Homo sapiens: one gene and its partners. The protein of the gene in region 3 purifies or fractionates together with the protein of the main gene of each other region. This does not show direct contact. Each region holds a gene or a part of one and is shown on either strand. Other genes may lie near its edges.

Region 1 (3,843 bases), on a different chromosome or scaffold from region 3:
GCATCTGATTTCTCTGTCTCGGGGGCCTAGCATGGTCATTGGCCCTCCCAGTGTTTCCTGGATGATCATCGTGCTGTTCCTGAGTCAGGGCTGCCATTGGAGGTGACATCTGTGACTGCAACCTGTGCCTGAATTGGTGGGCGGAACCTGCTCAATGGGCCAGAACAATGCTTCCTTCCACTGCCCCTGCCTGAAAGTCCTCATGGGCCTCCTTTGCAATCAAACTGCTGCCAAGAGACCTGCCCTGGACCTTGCCTGCCTCTCCAGACCCCAGCTGCCAGCTCTTCCACCAGTGGGCAGTGGTCCCCAGCACCACTGCCATTGTCAGCCAGCACTTTTCTGGACACTCCCAGGCCACTTGGAAAGCTGGGCGCTTCCCTTATGTGGGCCGATTCGCCTACACATGGACTTCCTTGGCTCTAGGCGGACTCAGGCTCCATCCAGCACACGGGGGAAGAGGGAGAGGAAGAGATAATGGGCGAGTTTGAGTGGAGGGTCCTTTTGGGCTGGACCCATCTGCTACTTCTCACCTGTGTCCCCAGCTCCTTCCTGATCATCTGCTCATCTTACCTGTCTCTGTCCCCAGATATCTGTTCCAAAAACCCCTGCCACAACGGTGGTTTATGCGAGGAGATTTCCCAAGAAGTGCGAGGAGATGTCTTCCCCTCGTACACCTGCACGTGCCTTAAGGGCTACGCGGGCAACCACTGTGAGACGAGTGAGTATGTGGGGGTGCTTGTTGCCTGTTTCTAGCAGTAGACCCTGAGCCACAGCCCTGGTGGCATAGGCCATATGCTGGCCTTATTCTCTGCCTGTGATCCCCACCCCAGTGGAGGTGTCAAGGCCTCCTCTGGGGAGACTCAGAGAGAGAGACAGAGCCTCAGTTAGACCGAGGGGGGAAAAGGGTCCTGTTGTTTCTTCCTTCTTTCTGCCTGGCCCTCTTTCCTGAGACTGCCGGCCAGGCCTGATGCTGATGCAGAGGAGTGAGGGGTTGTGGTCACCCTGGAGGTCACGGGAGTGCTGTTTCTTGAGTCACCATGAGCCAGACACACAGCATTAGGGTTAAGTTGCAAGGATTTTTCTACCTAAGAGGGGAAAACAAACACATTCTTGGTCTTTTGAGGCCCAGGAACTCAGTAAATCAGCCTTGGTTTCAGAGTCTGACAGTTCCTGGCCCAAGTTTGACCTGCAGCCTCATCGCAGAGCTCGGGGAGAAGGGAGAGGCCTGGGCCAGCTGAACCATCCCCACGCGGTCAGGTGGTCAGAGGCCTTGCATGCCCAGAGGGGCTGTCCGCGTGTGACCTGCCTGGTTATCCACTCGGCCACAGAATGGCCCTAGGTGGGGTGGCAACAGCAGTTCCCCTGCTGTCCTCCCTCCAGGCCCAGCTGGAGTCCCTCCCACTTAGTGCTCCCACCCCACTAGGACTCCTCATGGGGCAGGCGGGTTGCCCACATGTGGGCCCAGGGATGGGTGGAGCGGGGGGTCCTAGGTTTCTGAATCCAGCAGGTCAATCGCTGAGCATCTTGGGTAGGGGACAGGGGACATCTTGCCCTCCTCAGGGAGATGTGGGGATGGGTTCTGAGGTTTGCTGGCCTCCAGAAGGAGGGGGCGGGGGGCTTGAGCCAGCTGGGTGGCAGCAGGGGCCCTGGGAGAGAGCAGGTCAAGTGAGTAGGATGCCTTTTACCTCCCAAGTGGCCCTGGGGCCTGTGCCTTGGACCCTGCCCTGAGGCCAGATGTGTTTGAGATCCTGGTGGAAGGGTGTGTGTATGGTTTGGCGGACGGGTTGCTAAGGCAATCAGAGCCCTGGGTAGGGCCAGGTGGAGCCACTAACAAGTATCCTGGGAGCTGAGGTAACAGTGAGTGTGCCTGAGTGGGAATTACCCACCTTGACTTCTAGCTTCTGGGCCTGGGATCTTCCCCAGGCTGGATATGGCTGCACCCAGGAAGAAGGCAGGGGTGACCACACAGCGGAGGAAGCCCTCAGAGGGACCTTCGCAGCTCTTCCTTGCCTTTTACGTGGTATGTTTCCTTGGAGCCAACAAGGACCCTGCGGGCCCAAAGAATGCACACTGGACTCCTTCAGGGTGTGAGCGTGGTGGGGTATGGGGATAGTCTTGGAGGCAGACTGGGGTCAAATCTCAGCTCAGCCACTGGCCGAGCTCTGGTCTTGAGGCTCTGGCCTCACTTTGCGCGTTCCCCTCCCTGCCAGAGTGCGCTAACACTGAGCTCGTCCGCGCCTGTGATGTTGGAGGAAGACTAGATCTGTCTGTGGGTTCTCTGCTTGGCAGCTGGAAGGCCCAGGCACACGCTGGGGGGATCCCCAGGTGATGAGAGAAGCTTGGCCTGTAGGTGGGCCTGGTAGCTGTCCTGGGTTCCTGGGACCACACTGCTGGAGTGATGGTGAGGGGGGTGGGGCCTTGGCCACGGGCATGTTCACAGATGGCTGGGTGAGGGCCCACAGGTGGAAGGCGTAAAGAGGGAAAGCAGAATGGCATTTGTGCCCCACCCAGAGAACTCCTGCCAGTGGGATTCTAGAAAACTCCAGGCAGATTAGCTTCTTTCTTTGTGTACAGTGCTGGTACTGTTCACTGCTATCCGAGGTAGCCCTTCTCCCAAAGCCACCCTCCTGAGGAAGCCAGGGGCTGGGCTGAGGATGGCGTCCCTTCCTGGTGGGGGGAGGGGACACTGAGGAAGAGGGGGTCACACCGGTATTCTGTGCCACCAGTCTAACCCCTGCACCAGACTGATTGCTGCCAGATGCCCTATATGAACGAGGCCACCTCCCACAGCCTGGCGGGGGGGACTCTACTTTCCATGAGTGCCAATCATGGCTGTCCCCACAGTGCTACCCTGGCTGGGATCCTCTGGCAGCCCTGGGTCCCAGCCTCCCGTGACTCTGCCCACCCCCCTCATCCTCACCACCCCTGGCCACATACCTTTTCTTGGCACCTCGTCCTGGGCACTGCCTTCATTGTCCCTTTGTGGTCTTTGTTCTGAGAGAGGCTCTGAGGTTCTCCCTGGCCCTGGGGCTTAGGCAGAGGTCATACAGTCTTATTTTCTTGTCCGCTGGGTCCCAGCTGGGCCCGGGAACCTGCTGGGGTAGCCACCTGACTGCCACCTCCCTTCCCTCAGAATGTGTCGAGCCACTGGGCCTGGAGAATGGGAACATTGCCAACTCACAGATCGCCGCCTCGTCTGTGCGTGTGACCTTCTTGGGTTTGCAGCATTGGGTCCCGGAGCTGGCCCGCCTGAACCGCGCAGGCATGGTCAATGCCTGGACACCCAGCAGCAATGACGATAACCCCTGGATCCAGGTATGCCTGGGGATGGCCCTGGGGCGGGGCAATGGAGAGAAGGCTCGATGAATGTTTCTGCATTTGGGGGTTACCCCAGGAGGGTTCATCACTGGGGTTCAGGTGGCAAGGTAACAGGTTCCCATGGATGAAGTATCTGTAAGTGGATGGCATCCCTGGAGGAACCTGGTATGGGGTCAAGGTGAGGGGGGAGGAGGCCCCAGGCTGTGGAGGAGCTGTTGGTGCTGGATGAGGCCTCTGGAGGCCTGGGCAGAAGAAGAAAGCCCTTTGTGCGGGCAGTGTGCTCAGCTACCCCTCCTCTGTTTTGCTTGAGTTGTTCCCCCACCCAGTGGGGGAGTGAAGGGATGGGTCTGCTTGGATCTTGAGTGGAAAGAACCCAGGAGATAAGGGTGCCATCTCCCCTGCCCTGTGTCCAGGTGAACCTGCTGCGGAGGATGTGGGTAACAGGTGTGGTGACGCAGGGTGCCAGCCGCTTGGCCAGTCATGAGTACCTGAAGGCCTTCAAGGTGGCCTACAGCCTTAATGGAC
Region 2 (4,189 bases), about 150 Mb from region 3:
AAATTTGAGAAACCCAGGGTAAATTTATTTTCTTGCAGGCTATCTCAGTGTCTTTAACATGTTAACATGTACTGTAAATCTCTAAGAAGCAGCATTTTCCAAACTTCCTCAATCTCCTGGGTGCGGTGGCTCACACCTGTAATTCCAATACTTTGGGAGGCTGAGGCGGATGGATCACTTGAGCCCAATTTCGAGACCAGCCCGGGCAACATGGCAAAACCCTGTCTCTACAAAAAAATGTAATAAAGTAAAAAATATGAATAAATAAATGAGTTAAAATTCCTCATCCAAGCAACTTTTTAGAAACAGGGTCTCACTTTGTCACCCAGGCTGGAGTGCAGTGGTGTGATTATGGCTCCCTGTAGCCTTGAGCGATCCTCGTGCCTCAGCCTCCCAAGTAGCTAGGACTACAGGCAGGCACCACCATGCCCAGCTAAATTTTTGGAGAGACAGGGTCTCACTATATTGCCCAGGTTGGTCTTGAACTCCTGGCCTCAGGCGATCCTCCTGTCTCAGCCTCCCAAAGTGCTTGGATTACAGGTATGAGCCACTGCACCCAACCAAAAAATATTTTTAACTCAAAGGTCCCACAGAACGCTTTGAGATATTCTCCCTTAGATTAAAATAGCTTATCTCACCTAAAGATCTCTACTGCCTTACTCCTGCTAGCATCCTTGAAAAGAGGATAAAAGGCCAGAAAAACACATTTTTTGAGAGAGTAGAAGCCCTTGGGCTCAAAAATCTCAGAACATACTGCCTCATACATCAAACACCTTACTTGAGTGACCAAGTCACTTTTTGGGTTGAGACAGTAAGAATTACACAATCCATCCTGTTTCTCTTTTCATCATGTCAACTTGGAAGACCAGAGTTCAATCAGAGTAAACTATCCTTAGTCTGGGTTTCTGGGATAACAGCCCCTCATCCTCTGATGTTCTCAAACCTCCACTAACCATCATAATGGCTTGTATCATAAGTTTATTCTTCAGAAAGCACTTATAAATTACCCAGATAGTACTGTGCTGCTGCCCGGTTGGTATAAAGGACAGCATTCAAATCAGGATCTGCACATTTCTTCTTTAAGCCTTCAGTGTATGAAATTACAGCTTTCTTGTAGTCTTTTTCTTTAAAGTAATCATTGCCCTCATCTTTATAGGTCTTGGCCTGTTCTGCAAAGAAGAGGAAAAATAATCACTATTGCTTACTTTTTAAAAGGCTCATTAAAAATAGATTCTAAATCATGTAATAATGTACTATATGACACACCAAAGCGAAGAAACCAATAGGGAAAGGAAACTCGATGTTATGATAAAAGTGGGTATCAACATGGACAAAGTCGCACAAATGTAATGCTAATTCCAAATATCTTACAAGGTAGATTACTAAGTGCTTTCCAAAAAAAAGAAGTATAAAGGAAAAAAGTACACTCATCCTAGCTGTTGAAGAAAAGAATTTTTTTTAATCACTGAAGAAATCAGTGAGGGGCAGGGGGATTGATTATACTTCTGCTTTTGCTTATGTTGTTTATTCTGTGGAGTGCAAATTCCCCTCCTCACCCTAGTAAAAGCCTACAAAATTACAAAGATTCAGCTCAAATTTCCTATCTATTGTGAATCCACTCCTGCTCCTTAAAGTGTTCCAACAGGACCCACTACAGCTGTAGTATACACCTACATGTTGACACTTATAGCATAAGTTTGTCTTGATTCTTTAAGACAAAAGGCTTCTCACTGAGCCTGACCTTGGAGGGTGGAACTGTGTCTTATTCACCCCTGTATCCCCAGTCCTTACCACTTAGTAGGTACAAAAAGAAGTATATTGGAATGAATAATGACAAGTTAGCTCAGGCTAACTACTTCTTGTTATCAATCAGAACGCTTCTAACCCACACTTAATTTCAGTTCAATGGAAACACAAAACAAATATTAGTCATGTTAAGATACCTTCTGGAGAACGCTCCTCATCAAAAATAATTGACTGGAGACAAGCCAAGTCAGGATTCTCCCTGGGATCAATTTCTGATGGCGCTCTCGACATAAATAGGGGGACCTTTTCAAATTCCTGTAAATGGTTAAGAATGAACTACATGAATAAGCTTTTCTACTGAGCAGATCCAATTCCATGACTCATTACCAAAGTTTTTTTACTCATCATGATTTGCAAATCATCACAGCTAGCTGTATCCATTCAGGCCTCCGCTTCCCTTCTGTAAAATGGGAGTGTGGTGTAATGGTCTCTAATGATTGTTTTAGTTCTCACATTCTACAAGAGCGGCAGGAATTACCATTAATTGAGCGCCCTTATGTTCTTGGCACTTTACCAACTGTCTCATTTCATCTTTGCTATTGGTGATATAGTTCGCGCAGTTTTACAGATGAGGAAACGGACTCTGAGAAGTTAAGTAACTGACTCATATCAGAGCCAGTTAAGTGGTGGAGTCACAGGCCTGACTCCAAAACCTAGGTTCTCAGCTTAAGAAGCGACTCAAAACCTCGAGGCCGATTTTCAATACTCAACTAGAAACCAGCGATCGGCTGGCAGCGCCAGGGATCTGGGATTGAAGGAGGTGCCCCAGAGCCCGGGTGCCCCACGAGTCCGGACGACGCCCCTACACACGTGGGGAGACCCCAGGACCGCCCACCTTCTCCCACTGGTCCTCATGAAAGCCGCCACGGTAAGGCTGGCTCTGGAACTTTTCCAGGAACGAGTCCATGACGTCGTCTGAGGTGGGATCCTGCCCAGGTTGTTCCATAGCTGATGCCCTGCCTTCCAGCCCGGGTCCCAGCGCCGTGAAGCGAGCGGCTCCTTCCGGCGGCGCGGGTTCCCTTCCCTCAATCCTCCCGGCAGCGCAGGTCCCCGCGCCTTGGGTTCCGCCGGCCTGGGGGCGTGGCCGGGCGTGGCCAATACGCTCCTCCCCCGGCCCGCCCTCCTCGGCAGTGCCTGGCCTCGCCCGGCCTTCGAATGCTTTTGGGGTGGTGCGTGAACCCGAATCCCCAAAGCCCCCATCTCACTTCATTCATTTGTTCGTCAGTCAGTCAACACATACTTACTTAGCTCTTTCTGCGCTTCCGGCCTGTTCTAGTGGCTGGCTATATAGCGGTGGGCAGAGCAGATGAAATCTCTGCCCTCTAGGAGTTGCTAAGGCAGTGGGGAGGAAACGACAATAGTTGAGATGTAAGAGTTTGTCAGGGGTAGCAAGAGCTATTGGGGAAAAGTTTTAAACAGGATGGGTAGACATTCTGCCAGAGGCCTGGGAGTGACTAGGAGGGGTCTGGGAAAGGCATTCCCATGGAAGGAACAGGGAACAGTCCGGAAGCCTGATGCGGGAGAGTCTTCTGTGCTTGGGGAACAGCAAGGAGGCCAGTGGGGCTGAAGCAGAGTGAGGAAGGGGGCAAGGAGATGATGAGGTGGGAGGACAAAAGGGCTGTGACTATGAGGATTTGGCTATTTCCTCAGTGGTATGGGACCTTTTGGAGAGTTTCGAGGAAAGGAGAGACTGATCAGACCTCTGTCTCTGAGCTTAGCCACCCCTAACTCCCACAGTTCAGATGGAAAAGGGTCTTCGGTCCAGGTGCTGCAGGCCTGGTTAGGCAGCCGCTGTGGCTTCCTGCAGCCTCTCTACCGGCCAGCAAATGGCTGCAGGTCCCTGCACCGGGGCTACAGCCTTGGGGAGCTCCTAGCCTGGTCTGGAATGAAAAGCAGACAGGAAGCACACCAATCTAAACTGGCATTGGGTCACAGGTCTGCTCAGTGAAGGCTCAGAGGGGTGGGATTCAAGGTGATGCAGAGCTGAGATCAGAGCTGAGGAAGGTCTCTGCAGATGGATAGAGGACTCAGCGTTTTAGGCAGTGGGAGCTCATATGTGGAGAGAGGCATGGAGGTGTGCACAGGCCCGCCATGCTGGGTACTGCAAGTGTTAAGAGGTGTGTCCAGGGCCGGGCACGGTGGCTCACGCCTGTAATCCCAGCACTTTGGGGGGCTGAGGCGGGCAGTTCATGAGGTCAGGAGTTCGAGACCATCCTGGCTAACACAGTGAAACCCCGTCTCTACTAAAAATACAAAAAATTAGCCAGGCGTGGTGGCACGCACCTGTAGTCCCAGCTACTGGGGAGGCTGGGGCAGGAGAATCGCTTGAATCCGGGAGGTGGAGGTTGCAGTGAGCCGAGATTGCGCCACTGCACTCCAGCCT
Region 3 (3,500 bases):
TCCTCTGGATCAGGTCCTTTCTCCATCCCACTACCTCCTGGGTCCAAAGCCTGGTGAGAGCATAGGGCCTTCTGGGGTGGAAGGGGGGTCTGGGGCAGCCTCTCTTCCCCCAACATACTCACTAGAGTGGCTCCTGTGAAGCAGAGACCAAAGTTCTGACTTTTCTTTTTCCTTTTTTTTTTTTTTTTGAGATGGAGTCTCGCTGTGTCACCCAGGCTGGAGTGCAGTGACGCGATCTCGACTCACTGCAACCTCCGCCTCCCAGGTTCAAGCGATTCTCCTGCTTCAACCTCCTGAGTAGCTGGGATTACAGGTGCGTGCCACCACACCCCGCTAATTTTTGTATTTTTAGTAGAGACAGGGTTTCACCATGTTGGTCAGGCTGGTCTCGAACTCCTGACCTCGTAATCTGCCCACCTCGGCCTCCCAAAGTTCTGGGATTACAGGTGTGAGCGACCACATCCGGTCAAGTTCTGACTTTTCAGGGCAGTGGGATGGTGACTTCTGAGCTAAGCCTGCAAGGGAAGTGGCTGTTCCCAGACCTGGGGTCCCTTGGCTTTTCGACCACCCTAGCACTGGCCCTAGGAGGGGCTGAGTTATCAGAGCAGCAACCCTTCTACCCACCCTACTGAGTCCCCATTCTACCTTCGAATCCCATGTATTATCTTCCATAAGTGCCAGAAATTGGTACAAAGTGCAGTGCCAGCTGCTCCCCAGGGCATGGTCTGGCTCTCTGGGCTGCTGGGCTGCCAGCCCCTTTCAGAAAGCATGGCAGTGGGAACCAGCAACTTGGGCTACCTTAGGGGAAGCAGCACTCTGCCCAGGGTTCTTGCTATAAATAGGTCAGTGGGCAGAGAGGCAGATGTGTGCAAAAAGCACAACCCCAATCACACACAGAAACCCGTAGGCACGGACACACCCAGTCTCAATGCACGAAGTTGGAGAACCTGACAGGGCTGGTCCAGGCCACAGAGGATGGGGTTAGGCTTCATGCCTTCATGCCCAGGCAGCCACAGAAACCCACTCTTCCCCGCCTCACAGGGCTCCTCCGGTTGGCCTGGATCCAAAGCGATCTCCTTGTTTCACCTCTTTCCAGCTCTTCCCTAGAGCCTGGCCCCAAGTTCCAGAGTCAAATCCCAGTTTTGCAGTCAACTATTAACCTGGGGCCCTGGCAGATTGGGGTATCCACCCAGTCATGTAAAGGCAGGAGACCTGCTCTGGGCCTGACTCAAAGCAAACACGTGGGTGCAGAAGACCCATGGGAGGAGGAGGTGGGGCCCACTCAACACACCTAAGCCAGTGGCCCTCTAGGAGGGGCAGAAGAGCCAACCAGAGGGTTCCTGGAGGTCATCGGGTTCCTCCTTCTGCTTCCAGGCAGCAACAGACCTAATTCATCTCCTGTGAGGATGGAGCAAGGGCGAATATAGGCATAGACATATCTGGAGCGCAAGGATTGAGAGGCCCTGTGGACAAGGGGAAGGAGAGCTTGGGGGTGGGAGAGGGATCTATGGAAGGGGCTGTTGTAGCCAAGAATGGGGCCTGGGCTGGGGGCCTGGCCTCTGGAGAGCCCTGATTCTACTCCAGTCTTCTCTCACCATGGAGACAACACCAGTAGAGCTGGGAGCTGGGGCCTGCCACTGAGTAACAGCTCACACATGTAGCACACTTATGCGTCAGGCACCAGCATGTACACCTTAATTTATTTAACTTTCACAACAACCCTAGGAGAAAGGTACAGCTACTATTCTCATGGTACAGTGGGGAAAACTGAGGCACAGAGAGGTTAGGGACTTTTCATGATCACACAGCTAATAAGTGGTGGTCCCAGGATTCAACCCAAGAAGTCTGTTAGAATCCATACTCTTATCGACTATTTTAATAACAGCATTTCAATAATAGTAATATGTGATGTTAAATGCTTTATCTGAGTTATATCATTGCATTCTCACAAAAATGGTACATTTGTTAGCTCAAATTTACAGATGAGGAAATGGAGGCCTGGAGAGTTCAAGTAGCTCACTCTAAGTTACAGGGTTTGCTAGCTGCAGACTGGAGACTAGATCTCAGGTCACTCTGCCTTGGGGTTGCCCTTTTCTGAGATCAGACTGGCCTTAACAGAGCCCAACTTTCTTGGAAGGACACAGCTGGGGGTCGAGGGTCCTGCATATGCACCTGGGGAGTCCCCACACACCCGCACCAAAGGGGAAACATTCAAAGGAGATGCAGGTGACATACAGATGGGCTAAGGTGAGGCCTTCCTCCAACATGGGGCCCTGGCTGAGAGTGGAGGGATAGGGTGCTACTTGGGGGATATCTATTACTAATCAGCACACAATAGCTGGGTGGGCACCCCCTCTCTCTGCAGCTGGTGGAGATGGGCCTGGTGCTCCTCTCTGCTTGGTAGGAATGACCAGGGCAGGATGCCACCTGCTACACTCTTGCCTGTCCCAGAGCCCTTGGGAGACCAGCTGTTGCTCCCACCTTTCCCCACAGGGTGCCCGGTCCCCACGGCGCAAGGAGGCCAAGCTCAGCTGTGTGTCTGAGCCCACTCAGCAGCAGGCATGATCAGGGCAGGGCCCAGCGCTAAGGGCTGCTGGGGCTAAAGTGCCTTGCTGAAGGAGGGGCAGAGTTAAACATTAGCCACAATGGCCCCCCGCGAAGTGAGTCATACTCCCCACAAGTCTCTGGGCTGGGCAGCCGGGGGCGGGGGGGTTAGCTTCGTTCCAGGTGGGTGACCAAGCTGCGGAAGCCCAGGACAGTTCGCTGGGACCAGTGCTAATGGCAGCTTCTGCTCCTGACCCCCATCAGGTCTCTTTCCTCAGACATCCCCAAAGCTTGTCTGCCTGTGGGTCTTTCATTAAAGGTGACGGGCAAGGGTTTTCTCTTCCTTCCAAGACACACTTCTAGGCTGGCTTGTGGGTCCCCTGAGACGAAGGCTGAGCAGGGTGAGCCTCGAAAACCCCATAGCACTGGCCCAGAGCACTGCGGTCAATGTCCGAAGGACCAGAGAGGGAGGGTGACTTGCTCAAGGTCACAAACCTAACTGGAGCTAGGAAGTAGGTCCCCAGACTCCCAGTCTGAGGAAATTGGATGTGGACAGGGCTTTGGTCTCCTGGCCAGAGGCAAACGCCCAGGGATCTGAACAGGCTGCCCATCTCTGGCCTCAACTCAGCACCCCAACTGGCTCCAGTGCCAACCATTGGCCTCTCTCACTGGTTGGCACAGGCTGGGTGAGCCTGGCCCTTTGCCCTGGGTTCAGGAGAGAGGTATGGCTTTGCCTGGCAGTCAGGGGAGGTGTTCCAACCTGGGAGCCCCTGGGGGAGGAGCGTGTGTGTGAACGCTTGTGCCTGTTCATCAGAAGGGGTGAGCATGGTGTGTATGCGTGGGCATGCAGAATGCAGGGTGATGACCTGTCTGCCCGCCCTGAGTGTCACAGACACCTGTGTGTCCCCTGTACTAGTGCCTCCCAGATGCTCTTCTCCTGACTGGCTCTTTGTGAC

The links.
Region 1: the proteins of TNNI1 (region 3) and MFGE8 purify together in Homo sapiens (co-immunoprecipitation; one large-scale study listed by IntAct). This does not show direct contact.
Region 2: the proteins of TNNI1 (region 3) and TTC4 purify together in Homo sapiens (co-immunoprecipitation; one large-scale study listed by IntAct). This does not show direct contact.

What each region holds. Positions count from the first base shown.
Region 1 is NC_000015.10:88,906,667-88,910,509, reverse strand, and holds part of MFGE8 (lactadherin isoform a preproprotein), read left to right. Parts: intron 1-586; coding exon 587-718; intron 719-3,133; coding exon 3,134-3,315; intron 3,316-3,731; coding exon 3,732-3,843.
Region 2 is NC_000001.11:54,714,472-54,718,660, reverse strand, and holds the start of TTC4 (tetratricopeptide repeat protein 4), read right to left. Parts: upstream 2,801-4,189; 5' UTR 2,753-2,800; coding exon 2,642-2,752; intron 2,062-2,641; coding exon 1,944-2,061; intron 1,170-1,943; coding exon 1,008-1,169; intron 1-1,007.
Region 3 is NC_000001.11:201,404,731-201,408,230, reverse strand, and holds part of TNNI1 (troponin I, slow skeletal muscle), read left to right. Parts: 3' UTR 1-3,500. UniProt on the Homo sapiens protein: Troponin I is the inhibitory subunit of troponin, the thin filament regulatory complex which confers calcium-sensitivity to striated muscle actomyosin ATPase activity.